Linked DNA regions of Homo sapiens: all the other regions are linked to region 1. Evidence: fine-mapped expression QTL. A gene starts in region 1. Each other region holds a variant in brackets. All regions are shown on one strand. Distances are from middle to middle.

The links. PIP is the estimated chance that this variant, and not a neighbour inherited with it, causes the effect.
Region 2: its variant is fine-mapped to the expression of GARS1-DT in left ventricle (GTEx, PIP 0.95).
Region 3: its variant is fine-mapped to the expression of GARS1-DT in whole blood (TOPMed, PIP above 0.99).
Region 4: its variant is fine-mapped to the expression of GARS1-DT in whole blood (TOPMed, PIP above 0.99).
Region 5: its variant is fine-mapped to the expression of GARS1-DT in whole blood (TOPMed, PIP above 0.99).
Region 6: its variant is fine-mapped to the expression of GARS1-DT in whole blood (TOPMed, PIP above 0.99).
Region 7: its variant is fine-mapped to the expression of GARS1-DT in nasal epithelium (TOPMed, PIP 0.96).

What each region holds. Positions count from the first base shown.
Region 1 is chr7:30,575,742-30,580,073 of GRCh38, reverse strand. GARS1-DT (GARS1 divergent transcript) reads left to right here and starts at 2,295. Exons shown (of 7, transcript NR_038889.1): 1 at 2,295-2,425; 2 at 3,364-3,510.
Region 2 is chr7:30,113,929-30,118,260 of GRCh38, reverse strand. It overlaps a transcript of PLEKHA8 not described here. Among named protein-coding and RNA genes, the nearest start is that of MTURN, 19 kb to the left of the region's middle. The variant ATG/G (reference allele first, on the strand shown) is at 2,726.
Region 3 is chr7:30,610,376-30,614,707 of GRCh38, reverse strand. It overlaps GARS1 (glycyl-tRNA synthetase 1), which reads right to left. Exons shown (of 17, transcript NM_002047.4): 8 at 2,463-2,612. Among named protein-coding and RNA genes, the nearest start is that of GARS1, 18 kb to the right of the region's middle. The variant C/T (reference allele first, on the strand shown) is at 2,386.
Region 4 is chr7:30,689,732-30,694,063 of GRCh38, reverse strand. It overlaps a transcript of CRHR2 not described here. Among named protein-coding and RNA genes, the nearest start is that of CRHR2, 9.4 kb to the right of the region's middle. The variant T/C (reference allele first, on the strand shown) is at 2,603.
Region 5 is chr7:30,590,063-30,594,394 of GRCh38, reverse strand. No RefSeq gene overlaps it. Among named protein-coding and RNA genes, the nearest start is that of GARS1, 2.6 kb to the left of the region's middle. RefSeq lists an enhancer at 1-62. The variant G/A (reference allele first, on the strand shown) is at 2,278.
Region 6 is chr7:30,515,583-30,519,914 of GRCh38, reverse strand. No RefSeq gene overlaps it. Among named protein-coding and RNA genes, the nearest start is that of GGCT, 13 kb to the right of the region's middle. The variant A/C (reference allele first, on the strand shown) is at 1,646.
Region 7 is chr7:30,605,117-30,609,448 of GRCh38, reverse strand. The region is part of intron 6 of GARS1 (glycyl-tRNA synthetase 1); the gene reads right to left. Among named protein-coding and RNA genes, the nearest start is that of GARS1, 12 kb to the right of the region's middle. The variant A/G (reference allele first, on the strand shown) is at 2,148.

The DNA.
Region 1 (4,332 bases):
AAACTCCGCCTCCTGGGTTCAAGCAACTCTCTGCCTCAGCCTCCCGAGTAGCTGGGATTACAGGCGTCTGCCACCACGCCTGGCTAATTTTTGTATTTTTAGTAGAGACGGGGTTTCACCATCTTGGCCAGGCTGGTCTTGAACCTGTGACCATGTGAGCCACCTGCCTTGGCCTCCCAAAGTGCTAAGATTCTTCAGTATATAAATGGTTTTTAGAAAATACCAAAACCCAATTCCTAGAAAGACCATTAAAAATAATTTCCCTTTAATTATAGACAACTTGATTATCTAAAAGCTTTTTTTTCCATAAATCCGCTTATGATTTACTCCAGACCATTCATGACATGCTTGTGAGGTAGAAGAATAGGGTCTGGAGGCAGGGAATCTAAGGCCAATTTGCCCTGACTTCCTAGAACTGAATCACAAGGAAAACCCCACCTCTCCACACCCAAGTAACAAAAGTATCAGAGGCTACTGTCTTTGCACTGCCTCACAGATAAAAATGGAAAGTACCTCTGATTGGTCCCCTCCCACAACCAATCAGACTTGTCGTGGGCCACTCCTTCACTTACATAGGGTATAACCAAGTAACCAATGGAAAACTTCTAGAGGGTATTTAAACTCCAGGAAATTCTGTAACCGGCCTCTTGAGCTCCTTGCTGGAGCCCAATCCCAGTCTGTGGAGTGTACTTTCATTTAAATAAATCTGTGCGTTCTTTGCTTCATTCTTTCATTGCTTGGTTTGTGCATTTTGTCCAGTTCCTTGTTCAAAATGCCAAGAACCTGGATGACTCATAGTCAAGACCCTCCACCAGTAACATATATTGGCGAGCCAGCCAGGAGGTAAGCCCAAAGTTTGGGATTTATTTTTCTTCTCTTGATTTCCCTTTTCCTCTCTGCTCCTTACAGGGGAACTCTTTTCTCTGTCTCTTTTTCCCTTTCCAGCTTGGAACCCTCGGTGGACAGTGCCTAAGCACAGAGGCAACCACAGGTTTCTAACAGGGCCACTCTCTGGTGAAACTGAAAGGTTTCTGTGTGAAAGTGCCTGACCACCACTGCCCAATTCAGGTGAGGGACCTGAGTCCTTTTCCTTTTTTCAGTCTTTCAGTGGCCGTTTCCTAGTAGCTTCTTGGTAATTGAGGGAAACTGGCCGGGACCACTCTCTACTGTTACCTGAAGGCCAAGGAGTGAACCTGGGATAGCTCTCCTGCCCAGAAGGCGGAAGGACTCTTTTGTATCTTTTTGAGTTATAGTCCCTGATCCCTACCTGTGATGCAATTGGCAGCAGAAGCTCGTCCAGGGTGAACTCACACACATTTCAGGCGACTTAAACCCTCTTTCTTAAGCTAAATTCTCCCATAAAGTTGGCCTGTAAGGACAAAAGATAATATCTCTTAGATATTTTGACCTCCCTTCTCCTACTGAATCTATTGACTGGCTGAGGACCTTTGGGACCCACAAGCTTTAGAACACATTCTACATCTTGGACCTCCACTTAAGGGAGCTTGGTGGTCATTGCTTTGGCATCAGTTTGCTTGCCCTGAACCCCGTAGAAATTCTATATATCTTTTATATACCCAATATAAACCCAATCTTTTATATAACCTCTGCACCATTTCTTCATGGGGAATATCCCACTAGCCTTGGTACCGTTAACTCTGCAGTGTTCGGGAACCTCCTTAGTCTTGCAAGGAATGCAGGAAGATATGGCCTATCTAAATTGGTAGGAAGCTAGAAGCTGAGACCTTCATCCAGGGACAAGAGAAAAGCTCATATTAGGCCATTGCCTCTGGAGGGAAAACATACAAAGCAACACTGGTGCCCACCTAAGGTCAGAGATGTCTGACACTTTTAGACTGGACCTCAAAGGGGGATGCCTAGGGGATCCAACTCCAGACCTCAGCCTCTCCAAAGGGGATGCCCTAGGCAAAGGTTCTCAGGTCTAGTACTAAGGCCTCCTTAGAATTGTCTCTCTCTTGCAGACCACTACAGGAAACACTCCATTTATTCCACCTGACTTCCCACTTGGCTGCATCCTCAACCATTGAAATGAATTTGACCCTGATAATCTAAGGAGGAAACATTTGATATTCTTTTGCAATAATACTTGGCCCCAGTATTGTTTGGAATCTGGAGTTTGCTGTTGAATGGGAAAGCAGGATGACGTTGCATGTATCCAGGCTTTGGTGCTGCTGTCCTAAGAAGGGTCAGGCCTAGTCAGCATATGGTGCTCTCCTTTGGTGCTATTTGGCTCCAGTGTCTTTGGAGTCTGAGGAGGTTTGGCCTTTAAAAATCAAACTGCCACCGGAACTGCTTTAAAAATGTTTGGTTCACAGCCTTCACTGGATTACCTATTGGAGCAAACAAAGTGTAACCATGTAAAACCTGTGAGCTTGTATTGATATCTCATGGCTAGAGTTCCAAGGTAAAAGCTATTGGATCTTCGTTTGTGTGTGTGTATACATGTCTAGATGTGTTTATTTGTATGTACACTTATTGTTATATGTTGTGTCAACCAAATCAGCTTATAAATAAAAAAGCACTCATAAATTAAATAAATAAGTCCAAGCAATTTTCAAGTTCATGTGACTTAAGTAAATCTTCATTAAATAGCTGGCTTTAAAATTATTGGTAAAATGAAAATAGAAATATCTTCAGAATTGTCAGCATACATTTTTGTCTGGGTTTTATATTTGTCTTTGCTAGAAATGTTGAAGTGTCAGCATTTGGCATAGAAGATTATAAAGCTATTAACCCAGCCAAAACAAAATGGCCTTAGTTTATGTGGCTTCTTTGACAAATGAGACTAATTTAATATTGTTAGCTAAATCTTCTGGGTTATTGGCAAAAACACCTATGTATTTAACTGTGAGGTTCTTATTTAGGTGAACACATAATGTTCATTGGCTATTAAAAATGGTTAACAAATAAATAACTAACTTTAAATGATGGTGTCTAATATCTCAGTTTTCAGAAGTAATCTAGATAAACTGTTAAAAATGAAAGACTTAAGTACATGTAAATGGGATGAATGATTAGGTAAATTTTGTGTAATTTAAAATCTTAAAAGTATTTTTGATGCCCATTGGATATCTCAGTCATTTCCAATTAAGAAAGGGTTATGATAGGGAGGAATATGTTTCCAAAAATTGTGGAATTATTCTCATCTATAAAATGCTAATATCTGATAGTTTAGGATTTTTTGCTTCCTAAGGTTTCACTAAAATTTAAGGTTACTAAGATGATATGGTTTGGCTTTGCATCCCCACCCAAATCTCTTCTTATAACTCCCATAATTACCGTGTGTTGTGGGGAGGGATCCAGTGGGTGAGAGATGATTGAATTATGCTGTTCTCATGATAGCGAATGGGTCTCATGAGATCTGATGGTTTTGAAAATGGGAGTTGCCCTGCACAAGCTCTCCTTTTGCCTGCTGCCATCCACATAAGATGTGATTTGCTCTTCCTTGCCTTCCACCATGATTGTGAGGCCTTCCCAGCATGTGGAAATGTAAGTCCAATAAACCTCTTTCTTTTGTAAATTGCCCAGTCTTAAGTATGTCTTTATCAGCAGCATGAAAACAGACTAATACATAAGGATATGAATTATAGTTAATATATAATTCTGTATACAAAATATGCCAAAAAATGTGTTATTGGTGAGAAAGAATTATTTTGTGTAGTTTGGAGGTTATCTGAAAGTTAATTCAAATTATGGACTTTAAAAAAAAGAGTTATTTATGAAACAAGGTAGTAAGGAACCAGTAAGTAGGGGAGAGATGTGAAGAAAGTTATATATATGAAGATATGTTTTTGTGAGGGAAGATTGTAGAGATGGTGGCTTTGTAGGAGAAAAGATCTTGTACGATAAATTCTTGTCCTAACGTAAAATGACTGGTTGTTTAAAAAGAAAGATGTTTAGGAAAACTCAGAAAGTCCAAGCATTTTGTAGATGGTCTGGGTAAGTTATGAAAAGAATTCATGTAAGAAAAGGATAATGTACCTTTGGTAAAAAGCATGGGAATGTGGATTTCTTGCCTAAGTTTAGAGGGTGAAAGGATGGTTTTAAGTGAGATAGGAATAATCTAAAAGGTTTGAACAAGTTGTGGAAGGCTTATGAAAAATTAATTGTAAAAGAGATTCTGTGTGTGAACATATTGGCTAAAGTTAAAGGGGAAGACTGGCAATTAGACTTCACCCATATGCCAGTGTGCAAAGTATACAAGTTTTTGGTAGTAGTAATAGATACTTTTACTGGCTGGGTTGAAGCTTGCTCTATGAGAACAAAGAAGGCTCATGAAGTTGCTAAGCTTCTTTTAAAGGAAATAAATCC
Region 2 (4,332 bases), 460 kb after region 1:
AAATAAGTTCCAGATAGACTCAGTCATTTCAGGGTTTTCTCAGGCATTTTAGATCTCACTTAACTCAGGATACTCTCACATACTTCCTTCTCTCCAGGAGGCATCTCGGGGCTTGCTGGGCATCCTGGCCCAGGAGAGGCATTTAGTCCAGGCTGATCCCCTGGAGAGAGGCGTCACCCAGATGTGATGCATCCTGTCTCATGCTGGGTCATCATGTCCTGCAGGCCACTCTGCACCCGCCTGATTCTGAGTGACAGCCCTCCTGGGCCACCATCAGACATTTGTGTGTCCCTGTTAGAAATGAATCCACGTCTCAGTTTTTAAATTTTTTAAAAAATAAAAATATGAATAAAGTCTTGGCAATCTTTAATCTACAGGAAGTAGAGTTGTGTAGTTATACTTCTGTTTCTAATATCTTGTTGGCAACATAAGCTTTGTGCCTTCATTTTTTTAGTGTGCACACTAAACTTTTGAAACTTAAAATTATTTTTCTCATAAATTCTGGCAGTTGTAAATCAAAACTGTTGTTTTTTAAAGATTTTAATTTTTTTCTGGAGGGGGGTCTTGCTCTGTCACACAGGCTGGATGGAGTACAGTGGCATGATCATGGCTCACTGCAGCCTTGAACTCCTGGGCTCAAGTGACCCTCTCGCCTCAGCCTCCTGAGTATCTGGGACTACAGGTGTGTGCCAACATGCCTGGCTAATTTTTTTATTTTAGTGGAGATAAGGTCTCACTATGTTGCCCAGGCTGGTCTCAAATTCCTGAGCTAAAGCAATCCTCCCACCTCAGCCTCCCCAAGTGCTAGGCTTACAGGCAGGAACCATCGTGCCTGGCCCTAAATTTAATTTTTAATAAATTACATTTTAAGGCTATTATTTCTACTACAAATTTTAAGAAACTAACTTGGAACTAATTTAAGTCTCAAGAACCTAACTTGGAACTCAAATTCATTTGGCCAAGACATTGTATAGTGCTAACTTAAGTGGGAAGGGCCATGGGGTAACTTCTAGGAAATGCACACACACATATAATTTCATTGTATGGCATGAGTTTGAATCGATTTCTCAATTACTGTGAGCTGAGAACCCCAGTCTCCCAAAAATGCTTTCTATCCTTGACCCTGCCTGCCTCTCACAATTTCCAGGCTGTCTCCTTAATAACGTTCAATCTGCCTTCCACAGTCATTACGTCAACTGGGCACAGATGCTGGAAGGCAGACGGAAAGGCGGTGACAAAGTTAGACCTACATTTGCAAGACCAAGTGAAACACACACCCACTCTCCTGAAGCCAAACTGCTTTTGGAAGGCGGGCAGGGGAGTGCCATTCCCTCTAGCATACTTGTCATTCCCAGCCTAGGTTTCAGATCCTTTTTATACACTGGCCTGTGGAGAGACTTGCTGCTAAATTCTGTTATTTCACAGCCCATCTCTAGCAACTGTGTTGGGGAACGACTTCAGACATTCCAGGTTTTGCTCAGAGAGCAATTTTCAACAAGAAAGCCAGAATGGGGGAGTAGCTAAGATTTAGTTGCAGCAAATTGGAGACCGGAAATATAAAGTTATTCAGAACAGTCAATGAAAATCATTTATATGGGAGAGAAACAACATGATCTTGCTTTAAATGTAAGGCATCTATCAGCGGCACAATGTTAATTAGGATTCTAGGGCTCTTAGTGCAGCTATTCCCTTTTTTATTTCTAGGTTGCTAGGTGCAGAAGAGTAGATTTGCAGAACAGCTAATCAAATATATGCAAGAAGATGCCCCTCATTTATCCTTAAGCTTCTAAGGCAGAAGTTTTTCTTCAGTTGTTTGTTCTTTAATGAATTTTAATGATGTAAGAAAAATACAATACACTATTAGGTGAAAAATCGCACATGTAAACAGATATTCACACATGAATCAAGTTATATAGTACATATATACATACACACATATGTGTATGTATATATGTATACATGTATGAATACATACATGTATACATACATACATGTATGCATGTATACGTGTACATGTATACGCATACATGTATACGTATATACATATGTATACATGTATACGTGTATGTATGCGTATGTATACATATGTATACACATGTATACGTGTATGTATGCGTATGTATACATATGTATACACATGTATACGTGTATGTATGCGTATGTATACGTATGTATGCGTATGTATACATGTATACGTATGCATACGTATGTATGCGTATGCGCACATGTATGTATACGTATGTATGCGTATGTATGCGTATGTATGCGTATGCATACATGCATGCATGCACATGTATGCATGCATGTATGCGTATGTGTGCATGTATACATGTATGTACACGCACGCATGCATGTATACATGCATGTATACGCATGTATGCGTGCCTACATGTATGTGCACGTATGTATGCATACGTGTATACATGTATGTGCACGCATGTATACATGCATGCGTGTATACATGTATGTGCACGTATGTATGCATGCATACGTGTATACATGTATGTGCACGTATGTATACATGTATACGTGTATGCATGCATGCGCGTATGTATACATGTATACGTGTATGCATGTATGTGCGTATGTATACACGTATACATGTATGTGTACATGTGTGCATGTATGTGTACATGTATGTGTGCATGTATAAATGTATGTATACATGTCTACATGTATACGTGCATGTATACATATGTCTACATGTATACGTGCATGTGTACAT[ATG/G]TCTACATGTATACGTGTATGTGTACATATGTATACATATGTCTACATACACGTATACATGTGTGTATACATATGCATACATATATACATGTATATATGTATATCTAAACACATATAATACAAAAAGGAGAAAACATTTAAAACATGGCCATTTTTAGGTAGTGGTACAATGAGTAGTTTGCATTTTCCTCCTAACACTTCTATGGATGTCCCCAATTTTTAAATCAGGCTTACCAAGAGAAAATAATTAACATCATACTTTTTTTAAAGGGTGGAATGAGACTCCTAACTTTCTTAAAAGAAGATGTGGGGAAACAGTCTGAAAACTCTCCTGCCATACTGCCTTAAAATGCTTGACAAAATACAGCAAAAATTATTTTAAATGCATGAATGAACTGGCAACAGAGAAAGGAAGTCTCCAGGTGTGTCAGTAACAAAGAGAGAAGTGAGTGGTAAGGATGTGGGATGCTGCCACAGCTGGGCTTAGTTAAAAAACTGCAGCAGTTTTTAAAAGGCTACACCCACACTGAAAAGAGTAGATTAGGAGAACCATCGATGCACTGGCACGGAGAGACAAAAAAGAATTTATATGCCTCTGTCTGGATGGGGAAAAATGTCCTCTGAGAAATGAATTCTCAGGGTCTTTTTCTACCTCAAATTTGGAGGTTCAAATTTGCAGATGGTCCAGGAACCATGATGATAAATGACTCCCAAAATGATAAACAGCCAAAAAAGAGTTCCACATCTGGTGATCTTTCTGTGGCAAATGCAAAACTGCTCTTGAGGGACACATTTACAACCCAGGCCACGGGGATTCTCACAGAAAAACAGCCTTCTTTAAAGATAAGCTCACAAACACAAATAATGAAATGCAGGAGGACAAAATCCTGCTGACTTAAAAGTCAGCAGACACAATAAATAGCACTAAAAGATACCCTAAAACTTCATATAATAGAATGACAATTGGAAAGGGAATGTAAAATAAACATGCTTAAAATTATTAAAGCCCTAAAAGATGTAATTAAAACACCAAGAACGGAACAAACCTCATGAGAGGCACTGTTGCACGGTAGCTAAGAGCGCAGAAACTGAAGCTAAAGTGCTGGGTTCAAATCTCGTCACTATCACCTACCACCACCTGGGTGACCTTGGGTGTGTCACTTAATATTTCTGTGCCTCAAGTCCCTCATCTGTAAAGTAGGTATACTAATGGTATCTATATCAATGGGTTATTGTAAGGATTAAGTGTGTTAATATATGTAAAGTGATTAGAAGAGTACACATATGCTTGGCACAGAGTAAGTTTTAGCTACTATTGTAACAAAAAAAAGAAAAGTAGGGCAGGTGTGTCTCACTCCTGTAATCCCAGCACTTTGGGGGACTGAGGTGGGCAGATAACATGAGGTCAGGAGTTCAAGACCAGCCTGGCCAACATGGCAAAACCCTGTCTCTATTAAAAATACAAAAATTAGCCAGTCATGGTGGTGTGCACCTGTAATCTCAGCTACTGGGGAGGGTGAGGCAGGATAATCACTTGAACCTGGGAGGCAGAGGTTGCAGTGAGCTGAGATTGTGCCCCTGCATTCCAGCCTGGGCATTGGTGAG
Region 3 (4,332 bases), 35 kb before region 1:
AGGCAGGGTTTCACTGTGTTAGCCAGGATGGCCTCAATCTCCTGAACCTCATGATCCGCCCGCCTCTGCCTCCCAAAGTGCTGGGATTACAGGCGTGAGCCACTGCGCCCGGCCAAGAGGTTTAATTTTTAAATTTTATTTTTTAATAGTGTCTCTTATTTGGTCCTGCTGCACCTATGTTTTAGTTGTCTTTCAACAACTAGGAAACATCTTCTGTGCCCATATAAATGTGAGAGAAACAAACATGGTGTTTGTCCTCACATAGCTTATAATTGGGCTGACAGCAACTGAACATCTACAATGTGGGACAGGATAAATTACGGGCCCTGCCTAGAATCTCCAAAATGCTGCTGCCAAAGTCTTTCCATCTGTTCTGTCACAAATCTCAGCACTGTGTCTATAGTTAATGATTCACTGTATACCTGAAATCCGCTCAAAGAGTAGATGTTAAGTAGATCTCACCACTAAAAAAAAAAAAAGTAACTATGTGAGGTGATAATTATGTTAATTAGCTTGACTGTGGTAATCATTTCACAATGTATAAGCATATCAAAGCACCACACTGTGTGACTTGAAATCATACAAATCATACAAAATTTACTCATCAATAATCTCAGCTCATAGATAGGAGGCAGGAATCATCAGAATTCTGAGTAACTGTATCTCAGTTCAGCAACTGTACCTGAAACTGTAGAGAACTAAAATACACACAGGCTAGGAAGACAGATAAGTCAATCAAAATAAAATAAAATTTTAGAAAAATCTTCATATGAACAATCTAATACCTCTAAACTAACAAAAGGACAAAAGGAAATACAGCTATGCAAAGATTAATCACCAGAGAACTCTGCCATCAAGAAGAATCAGAACACTAAATAAACCAATCCTAGTCCTACCATGGAACAAAAGCCAGGAGGATGCTGACTCATGAAAAAACTAGTGGACTTCTGGTCAGGAACTTGCAAGGGACATAACAAAACTAGCCAGAATTCAGACATGACACTTTGAAGTGAAAATGACCAAAGAATCCACTGTTGAGAAGCCCCAGAGCCTTTCTACCAGTTAACCCCTGGGATCACTCCCAAGTTCCAAGCTGGTTTCCCTACTCACCACTTTTTTACTGCACAGGCCCCAGACACTGCCTTACTTCTCAGTCCTTCTCAATAATCTTCCCATAGCTACTCTGTGTAAACCCTCTTCGTAACACTGGCTTCAGACAAGGTCAGCCTTACGCAGCTTCCTCAGTTTGGGAAGGCATACTTGCTAGATATTGAAACGGTGAAAAACAAAAAAACAAAAACACTCAGACACTGGGAAATAAAACAAAGACTCAAATCTGACAAATTTGTCATTGCCATCATACCTGGCTAAAGTTTCTGATGACCTCCTCTTTTTACATGAAAGCTCAGAGGGGTCATTCCCCCAACTTTCTCTAAGTTGGGCACATTCTTTCCTCTGTAAGTCCCTCCTTCCTAAACCGTAAACCTGTAGGGCCTAGAGATACAGTTTGCGCAGAACATAGGCATCTTCTCCCAGATGGCATCATGGGAACTAACAAGATGAGGCAGGTGCTGTGGATGCTTTGATCCAGAGTCAGTGACTGGGCTATGTTATGACCCAAGTCTGTAATTACAGTGAGTAAGAAGAGAAGACAGGAAATGGGTGGGCGCTGGGGCTGGGAAAACACTTTGGGGCCTTAGAAAGTTATGTTTAGCTACACCTCGTATTTTATATGGAATGTATTACTCTAAGAGATGATACCAGGAATAACGTATAGAAATCACAAAAAACTTAAGTCATAAACAGCTGAGTCATAATAAATTTCTAAAGAAATATAGAACTCACCAGCCCCAATATGCCTTCCCACACATCCCTGGATAGATCAGACAAAAGTAGGCTATTTGAATAGAGGCCAAGTGAGTGATGAGGGTAAGCTTGCTTGCTGGCCTTTCTGTCATATAGGCCCCCCAAATACCTGGACGGAGGTTGTTTCCAGAACTCCAGTTGGTTACTGATACATCCTCACCCCAACTTCAGCAATGTTGTCTGCCCTAGATATCTAGAACAATCCTCCTGCCACAACTTTCACCCTACCCCCACCCGACCCCACCCTTTTATACACATCACCATTGCCAGTATTGCCTTGGTTTAGACAATCAAGATATTACCATCCTCAAAATATACGATGAACAAGGAAAAAGGTAATTTTGGAGCAGGTGAGACTCTTAAGACAGTCTCCACCCTCCTTCCTTTCCCTTCAAGTTCACTTTTGTCACTCAAAACTGCCTGTCATCCTGGAGATTACATTTAGAGATTCCAAATGTAAAACATGATTTTTGGAGAAAACAAAAATAAATTCATAATCAGGATTATGAAGCAGAATTG[C/T]TTCAAAACAGCAAGCTTTCATTTTCAATGCAATGCCAAGGTCATTCACTAATTTGTAAGAGTAACCTGAGCAGTACCTGACTCTGATCAGTCCAGATCGAGGGGAGATCTCATTTCTAAAAGAATTTCCAATCTGGGCAGCAGCAAAAGGCAACTTTCCTTGGTTGAACTCCAAAAGTCGTTTGAAATTCAAGAAAATCCCCTGTGCAGTTTCTGGTCTCAAGTACCTATAAATTTAAGTAAGTCAGTCTGTTACAAAGAAAGAAATTATGTTTTCCAACAATCCTGAAATTCTAGATACAAATCCTAAAAGTCCTAAATATACCATTTTCACAACAAAGTTGAACAGGCCCTAAAATGAAGTTTTAGAAATATTTTCCTCGGTAGCAAACATTTTCATAGCACGTATTAGAAAATGTATTAAGTAATTAGTGTGGCAGTACTACTTTGGCAATGCCATTTCATTTAATTACACCAGTGAGTCAAAACCCCACTTCTCAAAAAGCAGAAATAAAAATAAATTTAAAAACACCACCTCAGGCCGCGCGCAGTCGCTCACACCTGTAATCCCAGCACTTTGGGAGGCTGAAGTGGGCGGATCACCTGAGGTTGGGAGTTCGAGATCAGCCTGACCAACATGGAGAAACCCTGTCTCTACTAAAAACACAAAATTAGCCAGGCGTGGTGGCACATGCCTGTAATCCCAGCTACTCAGGAGGCTGAGGCAAGAGAATCGCTTGAACCTGGGAGGCAGAGGTTGCAGTGAGCCGAGATCACGCCATTGCACTCCAGCCTGGGCAACAAGAGCGAAACTCCATCTCAAAACAAACAAACAAAAAACACCACCTCTCCCATAGTGCCCCTTAAACCCCTGATGTCTTCTAAGTCATCATGTACATGGAGGCAGATGACAATCTTAGGTCCTTTGGAAAATAATACCCATGCCTATGTTTAGCCCTGTTAACCCACATATTAAAACTTAACTGAGGGGCTAAAAAGAAATCAGTATAGGCTCACATTTAACATCAGCACTCACTTATCACTATCACCTCACCAAGCCAGGTAATTTTCAATGTTTTTCAAATCATTTTATTATCTGCAGTATTTTATATTTTCAACCAGAGGCTTCCGCATTTCTCTGTATTTTAAAGATATAGTCAAGCAAATACACTACTATAACCACTGCCCTCTCAATTTCCTAGAAGATATTCTGTGCAAAACATCCACTAAGGAAACGCTCCCAATGGCCTACTTCAGAATAAGTATTTTACTAAAATAACTTTAAAACCAAGGGCTAAAAACCCTAAAATTGTACCCTCTTCTTACTTAACAGACCAACTCTTTTGATTTTTATGGCCCTTTCCAGATTTCATCCAAATGTAAGTAAAGTTTATACATATATTTACAGTTAGTATGTATAAAATCATGTATTACCTATTTTATACTTCCCATTTTCTAAATAATGGCACAAATTTCTCACATTTAATAGTGACAGAATATTATCCCAAACTAATCCACTTTACCATAATTTGTTTAACCACTCTCAAATTACTGAATAGGTTATTTCTACTTTCAATTTATATACTTCTTCTAAGTATAATTTCCTTTCCTTCTGAATTATTTCCTTAGATCAATTCCCAGAAATGGAATGTCTGGGTCACAGGTTATGTCTCATTTTATGACTCTGTACATATGGCCAAAATGAAAGGCTTGCCACTGGCCTCTTTCCATGAAATATTCCAAATCAACCTGATGTCTCATTAGAATAATTAACTGCAACACATTTTGTCACAATTAATTTTTCTTATTCTTCAGTCCCTACTCTGGGAAACACGATCTATCTAGCTCATGTAGGAAAAACTTACTCTCTTACCCTATCATAGAAAAATATCTAAAGCTATGAAATGGAACACTGGCTAAGTCTGTTAAACAGTGGACAAGGAATCA
Region 4 (4,332 bases), 110 kb before region 1:
CTGGGGACTGGGGACACAGATGTGGACCCTGTGCTCCCACAGCCTACAGTCAGTCTCATGGGCTGGGGTGTGCATGGTGGAGAGCTCTCTGCCCTAGAACAGCCAAGAGCTAATCAGCACAGGTGTCCAAGACGTTCCCCTCAGAAGAAAGAAAAATGGAAACAGGAAAACATTCCATTTCTTCTCTACACTCTTACACACCTCTGACACCAAAAGTGTGGATTTTCTGCCCCAAGCAATTCTCCACTTCTCTGGGGACCCCAACTGGGTGTCCTCCAATTCAATTCAATTCTGATGCTATCTTCCTGGAGTTGGCATCAGCCTCCACAGGTAAAGCCTCAGTCCCACAAGACTGCCCCCAATTCAGATGCCAGTCGCAAGACAGGGCTTCTCATTCTCCCAACCGACAGGCTATATAAATCAAGAGTTCCCATGACCCTCTCTTTGGGTTCAATAGTGTGCTATAACATTTTGCAAAACTCAAGGAAACATTTCTATTTACAGGTTTATTTTAAAGTCTATCACAAAGGATATAGCTGAACAGCCAGATGGAGAGGCACACAGGCCAAGCTGTGGGGAGGGCGCAGAGCACCGTGCCCTCACTGGATGCCACCCTCCCCGCACCACCAGGTGGTCACCAACCAGAAGCCCCCAATCCCACCTTTGAGGGGTTTCACGGAGGCTCCATTACAGAGGCATATTAACCCAATCTCCAGCCCGTCTCCCTTCCCCAAGGTGTAGGAAGGTGCTGAAAGCTCCAACCTTCTAACCATGGCTTGGTCTCTCTGGTAACCAGCTGCATTTGGCAGCCCACCAAGAGTCACCTCATTAGAACTAACGACACTCCTGTCACCCAGGAAATTCCAAAGGTTTTAGGGATTCTGTGTCAGGAACTGGGGGCTAAGACCTAATATTTATAATTCCTCATCTCTCTTGTGCAAGGTCCTGCCCACTGGCTGGGTCTGCCTCCCGTGACCCAGGTGTCTGCCTCCAAGGCCCCTGTTCCTCTGTGGCAAGAGAGGGGCTTCTCACCTGAGCGGCCTCCTGAGCCCCACAGCCACCCAGTCTGGGGCTGGGGCCCTCTCAGCATCCGTGACCCACAGGTCTTCACTTCCTCACCCAGGATCAGCTCTTCCCATGGGAACCTGACCAAGCCATAACCTACCAACTGACTGGGCTTGAATCTTGCCTCTGCCCCTTACCTGAAGTGGGACCTTTGGTGGGTGACTTCGCTTCCCTGGGCCTCAGCAGCCTCATCTGTGAAATGGGGTTATTTGCAGCTACCTCAGAGACTGCCGTGAGGATTCAATCCGCTGTCTTCTGTAGGGCATTTAGAGGCAGGTCTAGCACTAGAGTAAGTGCTGACTTCACGTGAAAGAAGCCTCCCCTTCCTGCCTGTCTCCCCTCTTCTTCTCTTGGCACCTCCATACCAGATGGTGCAGTTTCCTGTGTGGGCCCTGGGCTCGCCTGCCTCTGAGGGTTTGCTTTCTCAGCTTCTACCTGGGTCACTTTCTCCTCTTCTTACTGCTGTTCCTATGGCCCAAGTCCTTCCATCCTTTTAGATTCCGCTCCAATGTCCAGTTCGCCGAACGGCCTTCGGTTTCCTCAATGAGCATTCACTGAGCACCGCTGAGGGGCGAGCTCAGTGAGGGAGATGGAGGCTGCACCTTCAGGGGCCCATTGTCCGAGGGAAAGCTGCTGAGGGCAAACGGAGTCCCACACTGACTGGAGAGCTGGGGAAGGGGGGCACAGGGTTTCCAGGAAGCTTTTCTGGGCAGGAAGAGCTTGAGCTGGGCCTTGGGAGTCCCGATGAGGGGACTCGACCTCCCATCACTGAGCTCTCTAACTAGCCCCCTCCTAAAGTCCTTGCCAAGAGTCACCATTCAGCGTGCGCATTCTACGTGCCAGGCTCTTGACCTACAGTAATTTGTTGAATGCACACAAAATCCTGTGGGATTTGTATTATCCCCATTTTAAAGATGAGGAGATCAAGGCTCAGAGAACTTAAGTGGCTTGCCAAGGCCACACAGCTAAGCCCAGCATCCCCAGAACTCTGCACACTGGGATGTGTGCACTCTACCCACTCTGACAGCTCTTCTCAAGTCCTTGGAATGGGATTATCCAAGATATGTCTGTCCCTGACTTTCCTGGACCATGTGTTTTCTGAGGACAGCAGCCTCTCTTTCCTCCTCCTCCCTGCCCACCCATCACCACCACCACTAGGGGCTCTGCCCAAAATTGACACCTGCATGGTAGATTACGACTTCGGACTGAGTCAAATCCACCCAAACAAGCCCCTTGAAGAGAATGAGTATCTTTGGCTGTGTCAGCTTTTGGGGCCAGCAGAGAAGTTATAGGAGATGAAGCCAGGATCTGGGATTACTCCAAAAATTACTTCTGATATGCCTGTACCAAATTTTGCCCAGACCCAAAGAGCAAGCATCAGTTGCAGAGTATGGTAACCCTGTGCCCACTCCCCACAAAGTGCTTGCTCAGCCAGAAGATGGCCACAGCCTGAGACCACAGAATCCAAGGCAAGGACCATCCCACATTGCCTGAGTCCTGGGGGAGGATGCCCTGACCCCATCATGGGTTCAAAGCA[T/C]GTGTCAGAAACCCCGGTAAAGTCAAACAGGAGATCACCTCAGTGATGGGGCTACAAATGTCACAGCTCAGGGGCTTTGAGAGAAGGCACTAACATCTGAGATGGAATGGCTGCATCTGCCTAAGGGCGCACCGTGGACACTGCATGCCTCTGGGTTGCCCGTACCCTGACCTCCAGAGGCTGGGATTCACTGGGAACCCTCCCACAGAGGGCATTACTAGCTGCTTCTCAAACAAGGGCGATGGGCGCCATAAAGAGGGTGATGGGTCAGACCTAGAGCCCTCACTGTCCCCAGACCCAGCCAAAAGTATGGCCTGAGAATTCTTCCTGGAAGGTCTCAGTGTCTGGAGTGTTCCCTCCCCTCCCCAGCCCCCCAACCCCTGGCAGTGGCTCACGGGGTCAGCAAGGTCTTCCTGATGCCCGAGAAGCTGGAGCTGAGGAACTCTCAGCAGCTCCCTTGATATGTGGACAGCAAGACCATGGCCCCCAGTGTTTGTCCTGCAGGCCAAGAGGCCAGAACTCCTGGCTGACAGCTCAGGAGGCCCCCACAGTGCCGAGACACACACACAACACACACACCTGCTCCCCTGCATTTCCCTCTCTACCTCACTTCGTGGGGTGGGAGTTTGGCAGAACACAGGTGCAGTGAGTGCCTCCAAGTGGTGTCTGCCTCACCCTAGGCTTCCGGGAGGGGTGCAGGGGGCAGCACTCTCCTGTCTGAGCAGGTGGGGTCATTCATTAGAAGCTCCAGGCTGACGTGGTGAGGGCTGAGCATGCAGCTTCCAGTCCCAGCACAGGAAATGGACTGAGCCCAATGTGGAGAACGTGATGTTTGAGGGCTTTTGGGCTCTGGCCCCTGGGGACATCCTGGGGCAAACATTGACCCAGCTGCCAGGAAGAGTACATCTGACAGGCAGCAGGAAGAGAAGGGGCTGCACACTGATGGAGCAGTGTCTTCTGGAATCCCAGAATCAGGAATCTCAGGGTTGGGAGGGGCACAAAAGTCACACACGTGTGTGCATGTACTCACACACACACACGCTGACCATAGAGCAAGAAAAGGAGTGGTCTTGGGAGGAATGGGGCCAAGCGTTAGAATTTAGAGTGAATTGCTCTCGTTCAGTCATACACCATGCATTTTCCAGCCTCTCTGCCTTTGCACATGCTGTGCTCTCTAACTAGAATGCCCTTCCTGGCCTGATCAGCTTGGCAAGCTCCTACTCACCCTTCAAAACCCACATTAGCATGACCTCTTCTGTGATGCTACCCCTGCCCTCCTCAGTAAATCGTACATGCCGTAAAACTGTACATCCTATCCATCTTTCCCACCAGAAGATGGTCCCTTCACGGGTGCACATGCCCACATCTACTTTATCCGTGCACATCCAGCACCCACTCTGATGATTTTTTAGGAGACGGGATCCTGGGTGCTTTTCTATCTTTTGGATGGAATTGCCATTATTGCAACAATCACATATCTTCCCTAGTGAGTGCCTAAGCTGGCCCTATGGTCCCTTCTTTTGTCCCTACTCATCTTTCTGGGTGCCCCAAAATGCTACCTCTCCCAATAAGCCTTCCCTGTCTTCCTGAATCCAGGTTAGGCACTTCTCTCACGTATTAACCTAATGCTCTTCGTTGCAAGTGCCTGCTTACCTGTGTGACAGGGAAACAAAGTTAAATCATGCATTTGCCTCCTCTTCCTTCTGCACTTTCTAAGTCTAGAGGATCCC
Region 5 (4,332 bases), 14 kb before region 1:
AGTCACACATTCTTGGTCCGCCGATGTCAAGACAAAAGCTGGCGAACGGGGGAGGAGGAGTGAGGGGATAGAGTCACCCCAGGCTTTCTGGAGAAGGTAAATTCCAATCTGCCCTTGCGGGGCGAGCAGGATTTGAACCGGCAGAGATGAGGAAAGGCAAGAGGTGCCTGATAAGTCTTTCTGCTTGGCATAGCCTCAGTCTATCTGCCTCCTGTGGTTAGGCCCCAGCTGACCAACCACCCAGAGATGGCTTCCCCCCGCCCCACACACCCAGTTCCTCCTGCCCAAAGGGTGGAGGGCCTAGAAAAGCTGGGTTCCCCCTCCAGGAAAGGAAGAGAAAAATGATGTGTTGGTTATAAAAACAGCATTGCGCACACCTGCAAAAATGGCTAAAATGAAAATGATGGAAAATGCCAAGTGACCCTCTGAGACTCCCCTACACTGCTCAGGGGAGTGTTAACTGGTGCAGCCAGCCACTTGGGAGCTCTTCGGCAGTATGCACGTACGTCTCCCTGTGACCCACAATCCCACCCCAGGAGTGTGCAGGAGTAGACGGGCTCAGTATAATGAAGTCTCCTTTCCTAATGGTGTGAAAGTCCATGTTATTTCTCTTCCCGTTCCAGTGTGCAGTTCTGGAGAAGTACTTACAATTCAACATGAGCAGGGTGGGTTGCTTAAGAACCTTCTGCAATATTGAACAATTATATTTTTAAACACTTTTATTTCAAGATTTGATATTAATTATAATTTATTTGGCTTTTATTTTACTAGGCAATTTTGAATTTATTTTAATATCTTTAAATGTGAAAAATCATTTTAAGTTTTACTTTTATTTTTATTTAGATTTTTATTAAAATGTTGAAATTCTATATCCTTTGAATAAAACTATTTTATTTCTAAAAAATTCCTTAGATCAATAATGTCTCATCCATTTTCATGTTAGGACAGTCCTGAAAGGACTCCAAATCCGTTCTTCCCTCCTCCCCGACCAATTCATCCTCCCCACTGCTGCTTCAGTCATTCTTTCTTTCTTTTTTCTTTTTCTTTTTTTTTCCAGACGGAGTCTCGCTCTTTCACCCAGGCTGGAGTGCAGTGGCGTGATCTTGGCTCACTGCAACCTCCGCCTCCCGGGTTCAGGCGATTCTCCTGCCTCAGCCTCCTGAGTAGCTGGGATTACAGGCGTGCGCCACCACACCCAGCTAATTTTTTTATTTTTAGTAGAGACGAGGTTTCACCATGTTGGTCATGCTGGTCTCGAACTCCTGACCTCGTGATCCGCCCGCCTCAGCCTTCCAAAGTGCTGGGATTACAGGTGTGAGCCACTGCACTCGGCCCAGTCATTATTTCTGAAAGGCAAATCTGACTGTGTCCCTTCTCTTCTCAGGACACTTCAGTAGGCTCTTCATGGCCCTTGGAAGAATTTCCCAAACAGTTTTCTTTTGAAAACTGTGTCTGCACAATAATGATAATAGTTTATGTTTGTTGAGCACTCACTATGTACCAGTTAGTTCTAATTTATCTCATGGAATTTATTCACCAATTTAGTGAGATAGGTTCTATAGTTATTCAGAATTTTCACATGTGGGATTCAAGGGACTGAGATATCAAACAGCTTGTCCATGGTCACACAACTAAGTGAGTGTTGGGCCAGAATGTGAGCTGGGGGCAGAGGCAGATTTTCTACATAGCTAATGAAGCTTCAAGTGAGTTTAGCCCCTTTCTCTGTTGGGCTCTTTAAGTGCCCTGCAAGAGGCCCTAGTATTGTGTATGTATGATCATATATTTTTCTTGCTTTATTAAAGTTCATTTCTTTGAGGGAAATAAATTTTGCATACATTAAAATGAACAAAAATGTATAGTTCAATGGGTTTCGACAAAGCAATATCCTTTTGTAACCCCAACACCAAGCAAGATAAAGAACATTTTCCCCTGACTCCACAAAGTTCCCTTGCATGTCATCCCGGTCATCCCACCCTCCACAACCAGGCGATCACTATTCTCATTTATTTTCCTCTTAGATCTAGACTGTTGTATAAATGAAATAATGTAATATGTACTCTGTGTCTGATGTCTTTAATTGACCATAATGTGTGAGAGATTAATCCATATTGTTTCACATATCAGAAACTTGCCCTTTTTTGCTCTGAAGTATCCCATTGTGTGAATATACTATAATTTATTAATTTATTCACTAGTTGATAGACATTTGGGTTGTTTCATATTGTAGACCATTATGAATAATGCTGCTGTGAACATTCTCATACATCTTTTTTTGTA[G/A]CTATATGTTTTCATTTCTCTTGGGTAAATATCTAGGTGCGGAATTACTGAGTCAAACAATAGATGCATATTTAATTTTATTAGATTGTCACAAGTTTTTCCAATGTGGTCGTATTATTTTATGTTCTTAAGAGCAATATATAAGAGTTCTAGTTGCTCCACATCCTTGTTAACATTTGATGTTGCCGGCCTTCCAGATTTTAGCTATTCTAATAGTTGTATCTCATTGTGACTTGTATGCATTTTCCTGGTGATTAATAGAGTTGATTGTGTTTTCATGTGCTTAGTGGTCATTTGTACCTCTTCTTTTGTGAAACATCCACATTTTTTGTCTTTGCTTTTTAATATTGAATTATAGGAGATTTAGATATGCTGGATACAGTCCTTTGCTAGGTACATGTTTCATAAATATTTTCTTCCAGTCTGTGGCTTGCCTGTTTGTTAATGATGGTTTTGATAAGCAGAAATTTTTAATTTTGATGAAGTCTAATTTATCAATTTGTTTTTTTTCTGGGTTCTAAAAAATCTTTGCCTACTCTCAGATATTCACCCATATTTTTGTCCAAAATTTTAGTAGTTTTATGTTTAGGTCTATGATGCATCTTGAATTAACTTTTGTGTATAGTTTTAGGTAAGAGTCAAAGTTCATTCTTCCCATATAGATATCCAGTTGCTACAGCATCATTTGTTGGAAAAAAGTAGGGCTTACAAAAAATTACTGCCATTGATCAGCTCTAGTGCCTTTGTCAAAAATAAGTTCACCATATAAGGTGGACCTATATCTGGGGTCTCTATTCTGTTCTAATGATCCATTTATCTATCAATCTTTATGCTAGTATCACACTTCCTTGATGACTATTGCTTGAGGATAATTCCTGAAGTCAAATAATGTATATTGTCTACCCTTTCTTCTTTTTCAAAATTGTTTTTCTATTCCAGGTTCTTTCTATTTCTATATAAATTTTAGAATTGACTTATCAACTTTGTAAAAATACCTGCTGGAATTGTGAACCTGTAGTTTAATTTGGGGAGAATTCATAGTTTAAAGCACTGAATGCATTTTGATAAATATATTCCTAAGTATTTTATTCTTTGAGTCTTGTGAATGTTATTTTATTTTCCATTGATTTGCTGTTAATGTAGAGAAATATAATTGATTTTGTATAGTGACATTGAGACTTTCACTTATTAGTGCTATTATTTGTTTTGTAGGGGCGGGGGTTGTAGATTCCTTAGGATTTTCTTTTTTTTTTGAGACGGAGTCTCGCTCTGTCGCCCAGGCCGGACTGCGGACTGCAGTGGCGCAATCTCGGCTCACTGCAAGCTCCGCTTCCCGGGTTCACGCCATTCTCCTGCCTCAGCCTCCCGAGTAGCTGGGACTACAGGCGCCCGCCACCGCGCCCGGCTAATTTTTTGTATTTTTAGTAGAGACGGGGTTTCACCTTGTTAGCCAGGATGGTCTCGATCTCCTGACCTCATGATCCACCCGCCTCGGCCTCCCAAAGTGCTGGGATTACAGGCGTGAGCCACCGCGCCCGGCCGATTCCTTAGGATTTTCTGTATTAATATGCATATACTTTGTAAATAGAATCAGTTTTACTTCTTTCTTTCCAATATTTATGCCTTTTTCTTTTACTTGTGTGGTTGCGTAGTCTAGGTCATCTTGCACAATATTGAATAGAAGCAGTGAATGAACATCTTGCCTTGTTCCTGATATTAGAGGGAAAAGTGTTCAATGTTTCTCCATTTAGTGTAATGCTAACAAATTCAACTTGGTTTTGTCTTTCTTATATTCTGCTGGATTTTATTTACTAACATCTTGATAAAGATTTTTGCCTGTATGTTCATGAAAAATGAACATACAGGCAATCAGTGTATTGTTTTCTTTTCTTGTATCTTTGCCAGGTTTTGGCCTGGCTTTATAAAATCAGAGTTTCTTTCTTCTCTATTTTCTGAAATTTCAATATTTGTAAGATTGTTATCATTTCTTCCATAACCATTTGATAGAATTCACCAGTGAATTCTGGAGTTTTCTTTGTGGAAAAGTTTTTTTGC
Region 6 (4,332 bases), 60 kb after region 1:
AGATTATTTTTTACAAAGTAGATGACATTAATTCAAGAAAAAAAGTATTTTAAGTTTCTTCCTGAAAGAACCTTTTAATTTCTTGTATTTTCTAGGCCAGGTGGAAGATATTCTTCCTAAAAAATGGTCTTCAGATTACCTCTAAACCTTCCTCTTTGACACCTGGCTGAGAACCCAGAAAACACCCCCTGTTCCATAGCAGACCAGTGTTTACTGTTATTTGCCTCTTTAGAGCAGTTCAGAGGACCATCAGCTACCATACCCACTAAACGAAAATGGCAAAAGGACTTGTAATGGCCAAATGCAGCAATATAATTTGTTATTATCAATTCACTAGTGATTTGAAATATTGAGAAAATTCCCAATTGAATGACAGCATGGAAAATCACATTACATCAGGGAATAGTATTTTCTAGGCCACCAGATTTCTCTAAATTGGAATTTGGAAATAAATTTTATTTGCAGCAAGAAACATGTATTAATACTGACACTTACTAAAATGTTTTAATGAGTTAGAGCAAGCATTTTGTGTCAAGATACTACTGGTCTAACAAGGCCTGCCACTATTATTGATGCCCATTATGTACTTTTCCGTGAAGTTGTCTAACCTGTTCTATTAAACCCGTAAACTGCTTTGACAATCGTAAAAGAGACAAAAAGGAACAAAGTAAGAATGATGGGAAATAGAAAGCCAAGGCACCCAATTTTCTTCTAGTTTAATCAATAATTTGGGGCTCTATCACATTTGCTCTCAGCCTTACAGTCTGATCCTTATTTTTTGCCAGGCTGCAACCCTCACTGCATTTAATAGAGGTTGATGGATATTTTTATAGCCCTGCAGTTTCAAACTGATTATCAGGTGTTTAACCAGCAAAGCCATGCAATATTTGTATAAATCAATCCTGTAATGAAAGGTTATCACCCACAAACCCAGTCAGTGTCAAACCAGAACAAGGTAAAGATTTGGAATGCTTCCCTTTCTGGATAACACACTATTGCTTATCTTCAATTTTCTGGATAATTTAGGATTTTATTGAATATGATTCTTCAAGAACTGAACGATCATCCTAAACAAATCAAAGTCACTGTATCATCACAGAGCAGCATTTCCCACACTCTCAGTAAAACGCTGTCTACATCAAAGGGGTTCTGTGACCCAGGAGGTTTTGGAAACTCAGGATTAAACAGAGCTCCACAGGTTCCCTTGCTACAGGCATTCTCAGCTGCCTTCATAAGGCGATGTGCATTGTGAATCTCTAAGTGGAAATATGGAATGCAGTGTTTTCCAGGTCACTGGACCACAGAAGCCTTGTTTGAGAATCACCTAGTGGCCCCAGTGGCCCACAGATCATATTTTGGGAAATGTTGCTATTTGAGTATAATTGTTATTCTTGAACACCCCAAATTGTTTTGGTGTGGGATTTTTTGTTTTGCTTTGTTTTTGTTTTTGTTTTGAGACAGGGTGTCACTCTATCACCCAGGCTGGAGTGCAGTGGTGCGATCACTGCTCACCACAGCCTCGATCACCTGGGCTCTGGTGATCCTCCTGTCTCAGCCTCCCAAGTAGCTGGAACTACAGGCATGCATTACCATGCCTGGTTCATTGTTTTGTATTTTTTGTAGAGACTGGGTTTTGCCATGTTGC[A/C]CAGGCTGGTCTTGAAGTCCTGAGCTCAAGCAATCCATTTGCCTGAGCCTCCCAAAGTGCTGGGGTTACCGGAGTGAGCCACTGCGCCTGGCTAGGTTTCTCATTTTTTTTTAAAGGTGAAATTCACATAACATAAAATTAACGATTTTAATGTGAACAATTCAGTGGCATGTAGTCCATTCACATTGTTGTGCATCCACCACTTCTATCTAGTATTAAAGCATTCCATCTCCCCAAAATAAAACTCTGTACCTGATGAGTAGTTAATTTCCTATTCCCTCTTTCCCCTAGCCCCTAGTAACTACCAATCAGCTTTCTATTCCTATGGGTCTACCTATTCTGCATATTTCATATAAATTTAATCAACCAGTATGTGACCTTTCATGTCTGGTTTCTTTCTAATAGCAGCATGCTTTTTAGTTTCATCTACATTGTGGCATACACCTGTGCTTCGATTCTCTTTATGGCTGCATGACGTTCCATTGTATGGATAGACCACATTTGTTTGTCCATTCACCCATTGACGGTCATTTGTTTTCACCTTTGGACCATTGTGAATAGTGCTGCTATGAAGACTCTTGTCCCAGTATTTTGTTTCCAATTTGTTTGGGGATACACCTAGGTGTGGAATTGCTGGGTTAGAGAATTCATCTTGCCACTACAATTTTGTGGCTTCCTAAGGCAAATTGAATAGTTCGTATGACTTAGCTAGCTTGAGACATCATTTTTAATACCTTTTGTTGTTGTTGTTGTTTTGTTTTGTTTTTTCAGAGATGGAGTCTCGTTCTGTCACCCAGGCTGGAGTGCAGTGGCGCAATCTCGGCTCGCTGCAAGCTCTGCCTCCCGGATTCCCGCCATTCTCCTGCCTCAGCCTCCCTAGTAGCTGGGACTACAGGCGCCCCCCACCATGCCCGGCTAATTTTTGATATTTTTAGTAGAGACAGGGTTTCACTGTGTTAGCCAGGATGGTCTCGATCTCCTGACCTCGTGATCCACCTGCCTCGGCCTCCCAAAGTGCTGGGATTACATGTGTGAGCCACCACACCCGGCCCCATTTTTAATACGTTTTTTAAAGATGCATATAAAATGCATTACCCTCTGGAAGATTCCAGTAACTTACTGAAGCAAGTTTCTCCTCTACATATACCTATTTCTGCCATGAGTAACTGTTCATTTTCAGTGAGTCATTTGAGTTTCTGTTATTCAGGTATACAGAGTTCCTGTTGTCTTTTTAGTCAACAAAGTTTAACAAAGACCATAATAAAGATGGCTTTCAGCAGCTCTGTTATTGGGAAGGGTTGTATTCATGTGAAGAAAGAAATTATTTTATTTTATTTTTAAGTTTTAGTAGAGGGGGGGTTTTGCTATGTTGGTTAGGCTGGTCTCGAACTCCCATCCTCAAGTGATCCACCTGCCTCGGTCTCTCAAAGTGCTGGGATTACGGGCATGAGCCACTGTGCCTGGACAGTAATAATATTTTTTAAAAGGCTGACATCAGCAGATCAGCTATTCTGGAAAGATTTTTAAACACTCAGAGGTTTTTTTGTGTTTGTTTGTTTTCTTTTCTTTTCTTTTTTAGAGGCAGGGTCTTGCTCTGTCGCCCAGGCTAAGGTGGAGTGGTGCAATCATAGCTCACTACAGCCTCAAACTCCTGGGCTCAAACAATCCTCACACCTTTCATACCTTAGGCCCCTGAGTAGCTGGGTGGGACTACAGGCATGCATCACCATGCTTGGCTAATTTTTAATTTTGTATAGGTGGGGTCTTGCCATTTGCCCAGGCTGGTGTCAAACTCCTCAAGTAATCCTTCTGCCTCGGCCTCCTAAAGTGCCAGGATTATAGGCCTGAGCCACTACACACAGCCCGGAGTTTTTAAAAAATACTCAATTAAAATGCTTCATTTAAGTGTATGTCTCTAAGAAAATTTAATAATTGATTAAATATTGTTGAATAGACTGAAAGCACAACATCCAAGCACATGAATTAAGCAAATAATGCAAGCATAGCTCCCACACTCCACAAATGTTTTCTAGTCATTCCAAAGCCATTCTTTTTAGAGGATCTTTAAGAAAATGCTTGGCTCTCATCCGATTATTATACAAGAGATTAAGAATTTACTGAGTTTACAGTTCTTTCTATGAAGGAAAGAATGAGGTCTACACCCAAAAGAAACATTGGGATTTTCATTTAAGTAAAGCTGTATTCTCATTTAAAATGGTACTAGTGCTCTTGTTGGCAACAGACACATGAAGCAAAATTTTCCTTTTACATTTGAATTTCAACTGCATTTAAAGTGTTATAAATACCATGACTACATAAGCTAAGGGAATGAATGTATTAACTCTGATGCAGTCTGTCAGGTTTTAACAGTAGTGAATCTTGGGATCGGTACATCTCATTCCAGTATAGCTATGGTAAATGACATAGAGATCGCTGAATTGTTGTATTTCCAGGACTTTTCAAAAGTGACTATTAAGGTTGGCTGTGGGATCTAGCAGGTTATTGTCCTAGAACACTTGTGGCCTTCTCCTAAAACAGACTGGGAAAATTCTGGTTCTTTATTCACTGACATCTCAAAGGGCAAAGAGGGAGGCACCATGACATTCTGCAGTTGCAGGCCTCTCAGGATGAGACTGTATTTTTCCATACAGCAATGTTGATTTGATCTGGCCTAATTCTCCGATTGA
Region 7 (4,332 bases), 29 kb before region 1:
GGACACCCACATTAAAACCATAACCAATTTATTCACTTTCCATTTATCAAGAGAGAAAAAAATATCCTTCTGGGACCTAAAACTCATATAGTCACTGTTTCAAAGTGAAAGATAAAGCAAAATACCTCTTATTCAATTATAATAGTTATTGGTTGGCAAGAATCTGAAATTACCTAAATAAGTTTTCAAAGCTGAATTTTACTACTCTGAACATATTTAAGGTGCATTTCTGCATTTCTCTGTATTTTAAAGATCCAGTCAAGCAAATATACTATTAATAGCCACCACCCTCTCCTCAATGGAGTAATTAAATGTGCATTGAACTTTCCTTTCCCATTAGATATTAAGCGCCTAGAAGACAGAAGCTGTATCTTATTCACCTCAGCATTTTCCAGTGTATTGCACATTCTATACATTGATCATCAGTGCCAAATCCTGTAAAATGATGTATGCCCTCCAATTTAAGAATTTCAAGTGACTATGACAAACCATCTAATAGTAAGCAGTATTTAAAACTTAAAAGTTTCCTAACAGAAACAAAATAATTCAGTAAATCAATTAATGGCCATAATAACTGAAGCTTCGAGTTCAGAAAGACCTTGGCGTATCTCCCAACTCTACACCACTTATGGGTTGTGTGACTAAAGATTAAGTTCTTACCTAACCTCTCTAAGAACAGGGGAGAACAGCTTCTACCTTGCTATGCAGGAATATGATGAAGATTAAACAAAACATGTAAAGTATTTAGCACAGGCAGGACCTGGTACATAATAACTACTCAATAAAGAGCAATTATATTTGCTACCCTCATAAATCCAATGGTATTTCCACTCCATAAAAAGGCAACCCACTCACACTAACAACATGTTCCAGATTTGAATGTGCAATTTAAAATATTAAGCCTTCTAGACTCTATTTCTACAGAATTTCTAGGAGGAATCCACAAAATAACATTATACAATTACCCAAGAGGCTGGATCAATGAGGAAACTGTTCCAGTGAACTTCAAGACACGGGTACCATAAATATAAGCTGGTCCTACTAGAGTAGAAAGTTAAAGAGCCTGAGGAACATCTATTTCCCAGGTAATTCAAGAATATATAGTGTTTTCCAATAAAAGGCATAATTTAAAAAGAAATCAGGAGGAAAAAGATTCTGCCAATACAGATAGAAAGCAAAACCCCTGGGAAAGGGAATCTGGCAATATCTAACATTACTATATTTGTATTTATCCTTTGTCCCATTTCTAGGCATCTATCCCAAAGACACAATAGCAAAAACATGAAAAGATATAAGCACAAGATTATTCAATGCAGCATTATCTGTAATGTTAAAGATGGGAAATAACCTAAATGTCCAGCAGTGGACAACTGGTTATGTAAAATATATCCACACAATGCCCAATTATGTAGCTATAAAATGGAAGGAGGCAATCTCTATATACTATGAGGGACCAATCTCTGAAATATTTTGTTATGTGAAGAAAACCACAATGGAGAAAAGTGTGTATGGAATGCAACCATTTATCTAGAAAGGAGGGCATACAAATATCTATATGTCTTTGTTTATATTCTATTTTTTTAAAAAAGGAAGTTGTTTTAAGTTAAAAACTGCTCAGGAAGCAGGGAAGCAGAAGGACGGAAGGTAAAGGGAAGAGAAAGATAGTAGACTAAATATACCTTGTTTTTTAGATTTGCCTTTAGAGGTATAAAAAATGCTTTATATGATTATAAAACAAATTTTAACTTTTTTATTATACTTTAAGTTCTAGTGTACATGTGCACAACATGCAGGTTTGATACATAAGTATACATGTGCCATGTTGGTTTGCTGCACCCATCAACTCGTCATTTACATTAGGTATTTCTCCTAATGCTATCCCTCCCCCAGCCTCCCACCCCCCGACAGGCCCAGGTGTATGATGTTCCCCACCCTGTGTCCATGTGTTCTCATTGTTCAATTCCCACCTATGAGTGAGAACATGCAGTGTTTGGTTTTCTGTCCTTGTCAGAGTTTGCTGAGAATAATTGTTTCCAGCTTCATCCATGTCCCTACAAAGGACATGAACTCATCCTTTTTTATGAATGCATAGTATTCCATGGTATATATGTGCCACATTTTCTTAATCCAGTCTATCATTGATGGAC[A/G]TTTGGGTTGGTTCCAAGTCTTTGCTATTGTGCTATATGATTATAAAACAAATTTTTAAAAAGGAAACCCTGAATACTGAAAATAAAATGAAATATATGGACTAACTGCATATCTAGCTGATGGCATAACCACACAGAGAGAATGACTCCAAGTGACTTTAAATACAGTTATCAGACTGTAAGACTACACAGTGCTGGCATATCCCTAAAGAAAAGAACAATAAAAGTGTTTTTAACTGTTTTCAACATTCATATTGCTGATGGTGGTGTTGGTATTGTCATTCTGAGACTGTTAACGTATACAGTGGGAGATAAGGCACATCAATCATTATGTTTTGTTGCTGAGAACTGCGATTTTTGGTAAGGGTAAAGGAGAGAGATTTAAGATTAATATAGTAAAAACCCTATAAACCTAACTTTAAGTTAACTATTAAGTATCTATATTAACTCATGAAAAGTTTATCTTTTAAAAAATATCAACTTCCTAGCTCAGATCACTGACAAGGTTTATAATTAGTGATCAATACCATCCCCACTAATAAGTACCAAGTACCAGGGCTCCTTGGAGAAATGTCTGATTCCAAGTCTGGGACAGGAAATGTATAAGATGAGATGGCAATATCTTGTCATATTAAAGGAAGTTTTCAGAGACTACAAGGGCTGTGTCAAAAGGACTCAGCAGAGAACTCCTAGTCACCAAAGACTGGACAATTTAACCACCAATAAGATAACTGCAACTGACTGAATATCAAATATTTGAATCTAAAGTTCACAACAGTAGGAGGAAAAAACGAAAAGGCAGGCAGGAACTCGTGCATTTCTGAAGGATGTTAGGGAACCAACTAATGGAAAACAGGTTTAAAAAGACAAGGGGTGGGAGAATGGATGAAGCACTTATTCTCACCTTTCTTTACAAATCGTGTCTCAGTTAAATCAAATAGTTGATAGAAAGTTTTTTCATATAGAAATAGTCTAGCTAAAAAAAAAAAAAAAAAAGAATAACAATGACAAAAATCACCATTTTGAAATCCCCTCATCAGTTAATGCATCTAAACAATGGACATCAATGGCCACAGCCCACAGAAGAGCTAACCAGGTACTATGTAGCTCTGGACAGAAGTCCATAACACCACTTAACCAAATGTCTCGCCAAAAATACCTGGTCAAGCTTCTAAATCTAATAGAGAAAAAGATGAACATGTGTAACCTCACTACAATAACGTAATTAGCCAAATCCAGACAGTAGAAAACAGTAAGGAACAAATGACTCAGCTTCTTGAAAAAAATTTTAATGAAAATGCGGGGAGGGAAAAGGGAATGAAGGAAGGCCATACAGATTGGAAGAGATATAAGAAACATATCAACCTATCACAAAGTATAGACTTTATCTGGATCCCAATTCAAATTTTAAAAACTGGAAACATTTAAGACAGCCTAGAAAACATGAACACTGATCAAATATTTGATGATATTAAATTATTAACATTTCCCAAGGTAAGAGGATTGAAAAGGATTTTTTAAATCCTTTATTTTTAAAGGATTTTTCTCTTTTAGAGATAGATAATGAAAAATTTACAGGTATAATAAAATAATGTTTGAGATCTGCTTCAAAAAAATTCAGGCTGGGCACCATGGCTCACATGTGTAATCCTAGCACTTTGGGAGGCCCAGACAGGAGGATTCTTGAGCTCAGGAGGTCCTGGCTGCAGTGAGCCATGTTCGTGCCCCTCCACTCCAGCCTGGGCTACAGAGTGGGGCTCTGTCCCCACCCTACCACACACAAAGAATTAGGGGAAAGAAGTCAGGAAAGTGAGAGGGGAATAGATACAAAAAAATCTAACAGTGAAGCAGGGTGATAGGTACATAATTGTTTATTATGTTTTTATTTAACATATAAAATTTTGTATGTTTTGAATTTTTCATAAACAAGTTAAAAATGGTTTTTAAAACTGGAACATCCAGAGATGGGCCACAAAAACAGACAGAGAAGAGAAACAAAAGAATTCGTTCTGAGCTGTTAAATCCACATAATAGGAGTAGAGGTCTTCCTACCACAGAAGGTGAATCAGGGCCTTTTAAAGAAACAATGATGCTTCATAAAGCTGAAAAGGAGTCAGACACTAAGGTGCAGAAAACGCTACTCTGTGCTTAAGCAACAGATGGGCTTTCAGCCAGTGAATCCACC